Homo sapiens: one gene and its partner. The protein of the gene in region 2 purifies or fractionates together with the protein of the main gene of each other region. This does not show direct contact. Each region holds a gene or a part of one and is shown on either strand. Other genes may lie near its edges.

Region 1 (4,555 bases), on a different chromosome or scaffold from region 2:
CAGCAGAACAGCAAAATGTGACCCAGGTGGCACATTCTCCACAAGGTTACAACACAGCAAGGGAGAAGCCAACCCGAGAGGTGCAGGAGGTAAGGGGCGTGAACTGGTAATCTATGGTTAGGTCACTTTCTCTGTCAAGTTGCCAAGAGGGGACCTGCTTTTAATATTGCCAACTTTTCTGGGAGAGCAGTAGTTCTCAAATTTTAGTATATCAGAATTGCCAGTAGGGCGTGATAAAACACAGATTACTGGGTCCCAGGCCCAGAGTTTCTGATTTAGTTAATTTGGAGTGAGGCCTAAAGATTTGCATTTCTAACTGATTTAGCTGGTCTGAGTAGCAAACTTTGAGAACTGCTGCTAGTATTTTCTTTCTTTTTTTCTCTGAGACAGTGTCATGCTACGTCGTCCAGGCTGGAGTGCAGTGGCACAATCTTAGCTCACTGCAACCTCCGCTTCCCGGGTTCAAGCAATTCTCCCTGCCTCAGCCTCCCGAGTAGCTGGGATTATAGGCGCCCGCCACCACGCCTGGCTAATTTTTGTATTTTCAGTAGAGACAGGGTTTCGCTATGTTGGCCAGGCTGGTCTTGAACTCCTGACCTCAGGTGATCCGCCCGCCTTGGCTTCCCAAAGTGCTGGGATTATAGGCGTGAGCCACCACACCTGGCCGCTGCTAGTATGTCTGAGAAAGGCTTTAATGGCTTTGTCTTTATTCATGTAGGTTTATTTGTCTTCAAGGAGTTGTAGTATCTGAGTTTTTCAAGGTTGGGGATTTTGCGGGGGTTAGGGTGAGAACGTTAAATGATCATGAGGATTTTATGTGACAGTCAACCCACTCAAATATTAAAGTTAATAATATATTTTAACTTGGAGCAGTGCTAGGTCTACACAGAGCATGTCAAAATTTGAATTAAATGACCTGTTTGACACTCCTACGGGTATGAGTGCTAGTCAAATAATACACCTTTTTATATTCTTGTTCTTTATAAAAATTAAGCCTTAAGAATATCTCATAAGTGAGACATCAGAAGTAGTTACCATTACCACTAATTTCTACAAAGGTTGTTTTTTTTTTTTCCAATCATCTGTAATAAAAAAATAGGCAATATGGTTATCTTTCTGACAAAGTGGTTGTTTTAAACTTTTAAGTTCAGGGGTACATGAGCAAGTTTGTTACGTAGGTAAACTGTGTCATGGGAGTTTGTTGTAAAGATTATCTTATCACCCAGCTATTTAGCCTAGTACCCATTAGCTATATTCCTGCTCCTCTCCCTCCACCTTCTGATAGGCCGTACAGTGTGTTGTTCCCCTCTATGTGCTTATGTGTCTCATCATTTAGCTCCCACTTATAAGTGAGAACATGTAGTATTTGACTTTCTGTTCCTGTGTTGGTTTGCTACAGATGATGGCCCCCAGCTCCATCCATGCCCCTGCAAAGGACATGATCTTGTTCTTTTTTTATGACTGCATAGTATTCCATGGTGTTTATGTATCACATTTTTCTTTATCAAAGTCTATAATTGGTGGGCATTTAGGTTGATTCCATGTCTTTGCTATTGTGAATAGTGTTGCAGTGAATGTGTCTTTATAATGGAATGATTTCTATTCCTCTGGGCATATACCCAGTAATGGGATTTTGCTGAGTCAAATGGTATTTATATCTTTAGGTCTTGGAGCAGTCTCCACACTGTCTTTCATGATGGTTGAACTAATCTGCACTCCCACCAACAGTGTATAACCATTCCTTTTTCTTCACAACCTCGCCAGAATCTGTTATTTTTGACTTTTTAATAATAGCTCTTCTGACTGGTGTGAGATAATATCTCATTGTGGTTTTGATTTGCATTTCTCTAATGATCAGTGATGCTGAGTTGTTTTTTTTTTTTTTTTGTATGATTGTTGGCCACATATATGTTTGTGTTAGTCCGTTTTCATGCTGCTCATAAAGACATACCCTAGACTGGTTGATTTAAAAAAGAAAGAAGTTTAATTGGACTTACAATTCCACATGGCTGGGGAAGCCTCACAATCATGGTGGAAGGCCAGGAGGAGCAAGTCCCATCTTCCATGGATGGCAGCAGGCAGAGAGAGAGAGCTTGTGCAGGGTAACTCCTCTTTTTAAAACGATCAGATCTTGTGAAACTTGTTCACTATTGTGAGAGCAGCACGGGAAAGACTTGACCCCATGATTGAGTTACCTCTAACCGGGTTCTTCCCACAACACGTGGGAATTCAAGATGAGATTTTGGTGGGGACACAGCCAAACCATATCAGTGTCTTCTTTTGATGTGTGTGTTCATGTCCTTTGCTCACAAAGTGGTTTTTAACATTAAAGAGAAGACTGAGAAAACTTTCCTCCAAGTTATGGGAATAATTAAGTTGATATGAGTAGACTTCATATATGAGCCTCTTCACTCTGTTCAGGGTATTCCTTCAACAGACAGGTTCAGTATCTTCATGGACTCTTATTCTTTCTCAGGCTCTTATGTTAATAACTAAAGAGAGCATGACCAGATCACTGGCCTGGCAGTTGGTTCTATTTTCTGCCCTTGTCAGACTGCCAGTTTACTGGATTAATCTTCCAGTGACTCAGATCTTCAGTTTTTCCATCTCTGAGGTGGAGATAGGAGTTATCTGCACTAACCTTCCTCACTAGGATATTGTGAAGATAAATGACAAGTGTTTGAAAGTACTTAGAGCTCTTTAGAGAAATATTTTTCTGTAAAGCCAGGGCAGTATTATGTCAAACTTGCCAGATATGTGAGGATGTCGGTGGAATGTGCAACTCCAGTTGTCCTCAAATGTCTGAGAAAGGACTTTTCTCCCCAGTTTATTAATACAGTCCAATTTCTCAGATTTGATAATTATATCTCTGCTAATTTAAGAATAGGATTTCACATTTATTTCAATTTTGGGAGAGCAGTCTAACCAAAGAAGATTTTTTTTTCTGAAGGTTAAAGAGAAAAAAAGAGTGACGTTTGTTTCTGTTGATATACTATATTCTCTTTCTTCCTCACTTTCTAGGTAGTGCAGATCATATAGAGATCGCTGAAACTTATAGGGAGAACTGATTTGAGTCAACTAATTTTAGAGGAGGGTTATTCTGAAAAAGCCATTTCTTCTTTTTCTGCTCAGGGTTTTCAATATTAGCAATAAAAAATGTTTACAAAAGAGTCCTGCTGGTTTACAAATAATTACTACTTTAATACATTAAAAATATTTTATTGTATCTTGTTTAACAGGCACTGTGTTGAACTAACATGGATGTTCATTAGTAATGGCATTCTTTTTTTTTTTTTTTTTTTTTTTTTTTTTTTTTTTGAGACGGAGTCTTGCTCTGTCGCCCAGGCTGGAGTGCAGTGGCGCAATCTCGGCTCACTGCAAGCTCCGCCTCCCGGGTTCACGCCATTCTCCTGCCTCAGCCTCCCGCGTAGCTGGGACTACAGGCGCCCGCCACCACGCCCGGCTAATTTTTTGTGTTTTTTTAGTAGAGACGGGGTTTCACTGTGTTAGCCAGGATGGTCTCGATCTCCTGACCTCGTGATCCACCCGCCTCGACCTCCCAAAGTGCTGGGATTACAGGCGTGAGCCACCGCGCCCGGCCAATGGCATTCTTTTTTAAATTAGTAAACCAAACTAGTAAAAACTAAACCCAACTCCTCAATTTTATTTCATCCTTCTCTTTTCAAATAATTACTGAAAACAAAATTTACATTGAAGAAAATTATGTAAACATTTCATCACTTGAAGTTTGAGGTTTTGTTCCTTTTTATTCTAAGGGAAAATAGGAATTAGAGTACTTCTGAGATATTGGTTACTTGGAGGTTTTATTTTCCAGGTTATTTACTGTATTCTTCACAGATGAAGTTTTGCTTATATTATGTCTATTTTATAAGTGAGATTACACAGTAAGAAACTTAAGTGACTCCATTGCAGCCATAAAGCCAGGACTATATATATTTCTAGACACCTTCTTCTGTTGTAGCCCCATGCCCCATAGACATGGAAATCAAGAAATTACATCATTACTTTTGAAATTGGAAGAGTGTCATTCCCAGTGATGTGCTTGGCCTAGGTGTCTCGAAATAATGATGTGTGGCAGAACCATGAAGCAGTTCCTGGAAGAGCAGAAGACACAAAACTCTATGCTCCCACCCATAAGGAGGCAGAATTTCAGGCTCCCCCAGAGCCAATCCAACAAGAAGTGGAACGCAGAGAACCTGAGGAGCATCAGGTGGAAGAGGAGCACAGAAAGGCCCTGGAGGAGGAAGAAATGGAGCAGGTCGGGCAAGCAGAACATCTTGAGGAGGAACACGATCCATCACCAGAGGAGCAGGATCGGGAGTGGAAAGAGCAGCATGAGCAACGAGAAGCAGCCAACCTCCTGGAAGGGCACGCGCGTGCTGAGGTATGAAGTCACCCGCTTCTGGTATGGTGTACTGGGATGGAAAACCTGGCTTTATTTTTACATATTAAGGTAATATATCACAATCTCTAAAATAGAAATGTGAGTGATTCTACTAAACATTATATGCTCATATTTAAGTTTTCTCTTGTA
Region 2 (5,610 bases):
GGCCCCCAGGCTCTGAGGCCAGGCCCTCGGGTATTCTGGCTGCTTGCCAAGTCCCGACCCACCCACCTCACTGCTCCCTGCCACCATCTCTTCAGCCCTTAGTTATCCTAACAGCCGGACACGTTAGGGGTCACTCAAGCATCATCCCGAGCAAGCCCTTTGCTTCCTCCCTGGGCCTGAGGGTTGCTGCTGGCTGGCACTGCCCACTTGCCCAGATCTGTCTGGGCACAGCTGTGGAATGGAACAAGGGTGACAGTATATCCAAGTCTGGCTGCAGGGACCCAGGCCCAGGGGCAGTAACACCTTTCCTAATTTGAGGAAAGTGATGCTCCTGGCTTGGGCATGACACAGGGAAAGGAAGTAGGATCTCAGGAGGGAGGTGAAGTCCTTAAGTTGAGTACCCAAGACAGGATAAAAAAGAAAAAAAAGAAGGGTAGTCCTGAAATAGAATGCGGCGGGCCACTGGCTCACGCCTGTAATCCCAAGTGCTTTGGGAGGCCTAAACGGAGGTGGAGGATCACCTGAGGCAAGGAGTTCGAGACCAGCCTGGGCAACACAGCGAGATCTCTCTACAAAAAATAGAAGACAATAGCAGGGCTTGAGACTGTGGTCCCAGCTACTCAGGAGGCTGAGGTGCGAGGATTGCTTGAGCCTGGTAGGTCGAGGCTGCAGTGAGCCGAGATCACGCCACTGCACTCCAGCCTGAGCTACAGAGCGAGACCCTGTGTCAAGAAAAAAAAAAAATGGTTGGGCTTGGCTTTAATTTGTGCTTTCCATCTGCAGGGGCCTCGAAACACTGGATTCCTAAACCACTTTCCTGAGGCTAAACAAGTTTGGGGAATTCTGTGTCACAGTGTACATCTGCACCTAAACACTCTAAGAACTCCGATCATTAAGAAACAAAGCCATATAACTTCAACTCGCTGTTTTCCTATCATACTCAGCTCAGAACCCCTCTCACCACAACACCTATGGTTCAGCGGGATCGTACCGGGAGGCACGGTGTCAGTCACCTCCCGGCCAGTCCCTGGGAACGGCTGTGCTCAGCCAAGGTTGGGTCGTGGCCACTGACACTCAAGCAGTGGGGAGGGGACCGTGGCAGATGGAAGCTGGCAGGGCCTGCGCTGACAGTCTGGGACCTGCCCCAGGGACCCAGGAGAAGCAGCTGGAGTAAGGCCCGGGAGCAGAAGCCTGCGTGCCTCCCAGCTCACTCCTGTCACTTGTATTTAGAGCCATCAAGCACGTACTCAGTGTCACAGCATGTGCCAGGTCTTTCCCCAAAATTGTTTTGTTTTACCTCCCAGATCACCCCATTGGGGGAGAATTCTCATCTCACTTTCCAGAGGAAGAAACCACAGCTCAGAGAGCAGGGGGCTTGCCCGTGGCCACCCGGGGTGGTGCCCAGCGCGGGGCCTTCCCTCAGGCAGCATGTCATCCTCTTGCCTGTGGGAAGTACAGGACTGTCTCCTTTTCTCTGTGGGCCCCCAGATCTACCAAAATCACCCAGTGAGTATGTTAAATAACAGATTCTTGGGCATCTGTATTTTTAGGAAGCTCTCCATTTAGCCAGCTTGGTAAAGAACTTCTTGGGTGACTATTCCAGGGTTCAGGGGAAGAGGGGAACCTCATACTGGCTGGACTCTGATTTGACCTCATTGTCTGTCCTTCTAATCAGAAGCACTCTAACAATGAGTGCCCCGAGTAAGGGTTGGGACGTCGCCTCCTATCTTCTTGTCTGCCCTGAATAAGGCAAAGCATGCGAGATAGCATTGGGACAGGGTAAAGTTACAGTTAGGTCAGGAGAGGAAAAAAAGGGCAGACTTGCCAAGGCCCTGGGCAAGGACGGGCCAGAACGGGCCCTCTCTGGACAGGTTTCTGGAGTTGAGCACGTCCCAGCCGCAGGAAGTCCCCAGCTGTGCTCGGTAGAGCGTCTTGGCTGCAGCCCTGGGGTTCAGGGTGAGTGTGGTGGGGGTGCTGTGGGAAGCGGGAAGTGGGAGTGAGCAGGGCCTCGAGGACTGGCAGGGTGCCCTGGGCATAGCTCCTCGCTCCTCCTGCAGTTTCTGTCCCAACTCTCCCAAGGAGCAGGTTTTCTGGATCTGAGCTGCAGGGCTGTGGAAAGGGCCTGTCTGCCTCTTCTTTTTATATTTTATTTTATTTTATTTTATATTTTATTTTATTTGAGATGGGGTCTTGCTATGTTGCCCTGGTTGGCCTCTAACTCCTGGGCTCAAGCAGTCCTCTTGCCTTGGCCTGGTGCTTGGCCCAAAGTGCTGGGATTCCAGGTGTGAGCCACTGTGGCTGGCCAATCAGCCTCTTCCCGTTCCCTGCATTTTCCTCCCCAGGACCCAGGACCAAAGTCATGCGTGTTAGGGATGGGGGAGAGGTGGGAACTGCTGGAAACAACTGCACTCGCACTCCCCACTGACCCCTGCCCACCTCCTCTGGAGGAGTGGGGGCCACTGCTACAGACCTGCTTTCAGCATATCATGTCTCTCTCCCCACCGCCACCCCAAATTGCATACACTGTCTCCCTCCTGCAAGGCGAGTGTCCACTCACTCACCTTCTCGATGACCCCGACCACCCTGCAGCCCCTCAGCTGCTCCACGGCAGAGCTCAGCGTGCGAATGGGCCGGAGCCTCAGGCTGCTGAAACCCTGCAGAGGAGGGAGACAGGCCACACACAGCCTCAGGGCCGAGCCCTCCTTGGCCATGGCCTTCTCACCAGGCATCAGGCAGGGGCTTCTGGATGCAAGGAGAACAGCTGGGAGGGCAGGGGTATAGGCAGGCCCCACCCCACAGTGGCAGGCTGGGTGGAAAAGCTGGCCTTTACCGATAGGCACCCATACTGGTCCAGGGTGGTCAGGCCGACCTCTCTGCTGAGCCCGTCCAAGGCCCATGAAGTTCTCTGGGCTTCAGAAGCCCCCTCTCAAAAGCCCCATCTAGGCCAGGCGCAGTGGCTCACGCCTGTAATCCCAACACTTTGGGAGGCCGAGGCGGGCAGATCACTTGAGGTCAGGAGTTTGAGATCAGCCTGGCCAACATGGTGAAACCCTATCTCTACTAAAATACAAAAATTAGCCGAGCATGGTGGCGCCTGCCTGTAACTCCAGCTACTTGGGAGGCTGAGGCAGGAGAATCGCTTGAACCTGGGAGGCGGAGGTTGCAGTGAGCCAAGATCACGCCACTGCACTCCAGCCTGGGTGACAAAGCGAGACTCCATCTCAAAAGATGCAGATGCTCCCAAGGTGGGGATAGGGAAGTAACCTGGGAACGTGTGAGTCTCAGGGAACGTGCCTTGAAGACCAAGCACCTACTTTGGGGAAAGGCAGCCGTACAGGATGCAGTGAGCCAAGGAGGGCTGCGTGAGTACGCGCAACCGTGGGGTAAGAAGCGTGCGTGCATTTTCCACCCTCACTGAACACTTACTGGTTTAGAGAAAGCCATGTGGGGACTGTGTGTGTGCACATACATGCACACAGATATGTGTGTGTGCACACAAGGGTGTCGGGGTCTGCTCCAAATTGCATGCCGGTTCACAAGAGACAGAATCAGGAGGCTCTGAGTGTGGACACACATAAGCGTGTAAATTGAACGGTGTGCAAGGCTGGCAGATGTCTATGTGCACACATGGCAAGTGCTCTGTGAGGGAGGCAGACGACTGGAGATGACTCAGTGAGTTGTTTGAAAATGAATGAACCATGAGGCGTGGGAGAGAGAGGAAGCCAGGAGGAAAAGAAGATGGGCCGCCCTGGCACACTCCAGCCCAAATAATGACTTCCACTGCCGGCCTCTGCCCTGCAGCCCAGGGCGGGCCTGTGGGTGTCGGGGCCTCCGCAGTCTCCCCTCAGAGCCCTCCTCCCGCTCAGGCCTTTGGGTGGGGGGGGTCTCCTCACCGCGCTGGGGCTGGCTCCACTGCTCAGCGGCCGCTGCAGGTGGCAGTTGAAGATCTCCTCTGCCCGCCGCAGGTATTTGGTAATTTTCAGCTTCACAGCCTCACGTCGCTCCTTGTTGGGGTCAACTGTGGGAGACAAGAGTCACCAGGGTCCCCAGCCATGGCCTCGGAGGGCTGGAGTTCCAGCTCCCATTGCCTGCCCTCTACCCTCCCAAGGAGTGAGCTCCTGTTTCTAAGGCTGGTTCGGCAGATTCTGCCCCCAGATTGCTTCATGAGCCCCTCCTCTGGGGTGGGGGGCCAGCCAGGAAGGAGGAGGAAGGGAGCTGGCAGGAGGAGGTTAGGAACCAGGGTCACTCCTCAGCAGACAGCACTTCACCATTAGCACCCACCGCCTTGCTGGCGGCTGTCACACCCTGGGAAGGGACAGGGTGGGGATTTCCCCATCCATTTTTTCAGAGGAGGGGATAGAAGATTCCAGAGAGCATTGCTTCTTCCATCTCTGATGCCCAGTGTAAAGAAGGCTAGGGTGGGGACCAGGATCGGGGGATAAAGGAATTTGCTGGACAGACTGGAAGCCCAGGCTTGAAGGGTCTCTTCAGCCAGAGGGCAGGAAGGGCCCAGTGCCCACCTCAAGGCCTGGCCACCAGGGCCCACAGGCGTCTCAAAATGGCCTCAGCACCAGCCTCTCCCCTGACATGGAAGTTCCTCATGCTGCCCTGGAGGGACCTCCCCTCTCGCCTCTAGGCCTTGAATGTTCTTTCTGGAACTCTAGCCAGTTCTTCAGCTGGATAACGCACCTACCATTCTCCAGTGCTCAGATTAGAGATCTAACATCTAGAAAATGCTCTAGGCCGGCCCAGTCTGACCTCAGTTTCCCTCTTTCCTCTCTTCACTTCCCCACTAATCCTCTTCCTACCTGAGACTATAATGGTCCAAATCAACTCATCAGTCTCCCCCCACTAGAATGCAAACTCCCAGAGGGCAGGAGCCCAGCCCAGCTCCAGGAACAGTCAGGTGTAGTGGGCCAAGTACACAGCCTGTGAAGTGAAACCCCAATTGTGCCATTTGATAGCTGTGGAGCCTTGAGCAAGCTACTGAACTGCCCCATGCCTCAGCTTCCTCATCTGGAACATGAGAATGTAAAAAATGGTTCCTGTGTGCTTGGAACAACATACAACAACATATATAGTAATTTCTATTACTGTGACACTCAAATGAATGAATCTACATGAAGCCCTTAGAATAGTACCTGGCATGTAGAAACTGCTTAATAAGTGCCAGCTATCATTGTCTTTTATGGAGGCCCTGCAGGCCAGCATAGTGCCGTGCTCACTCAGTACAAATGGACAGGGGACAAGACAGATGGGTGACAGGAAGAGCCCTGCACTGGCCCTTCCCCACCCACCCCAGCCCTGCCCAGCCCCGGTCCTCACCGTGTATGCCACGGAGCAGCACGTCCACGCCATTCTGATAGTGGTTGAAGGCCGCCTCATAGTCCTCACTAACATCGCGCTCCAGGGCCAGCCGGATCTGCGTGGCCGCATCCACCAGATAGTCACGTTTTGTCATGTCAGGCACTCCCAGAGCCACCCTGTTGCGAATCTGCTCCAGGTACACGTGAGCTTGGGACCGTGCTCGTGAGCAAGGCTCAGGCTCCAGGCCGGGGCTGGGCAGGCACTCACAGGCCACCAGGCTCATGGCTGCCCTGCAGCTGGGAC

What was found.
Region 1: the proteins of RPS6KL1 (region 2) and GOLIM4 purify together in Homo sapiens (affinity purification with mass spectrometry; one large-scale study listed by BioGRID and IntAct). This does not show direct contact.

Annotation. Positions count from the first base shown.
Region 1 is NC_000003.12:168,032,370-168,036,924, reverse strand, and holds part of GOLIM4 (Golgi integral membrane protein 4), read left to right. Parts: coding exon 1-89; intron 90-4,072; coding exon 4,073-4,405; intron 4,406-4,555. UniProt on the Homo sapiens protein: Plays a role in endosome to Golgi protein trafficking; mediates protein transport along the late endosome-bypass pathway from the early endosome to the Golgi.
Region 2 is NC_000014.9:74,915,952-74,921,561, forward strand, and holds part of RPS6KL1 (ribosomal protein S6 kinase-like 1), read right to left. Parts: 5' UTR 5,591-5,610; coding exon 5,326-5,590; intron 4,019-5,325; coding exon 3,894-4,018; intron 2,655-3,893; coding exon 2,562-2,654; intron 570-2,561; coding exon of another isoform or gene 522-569; intron 1-521.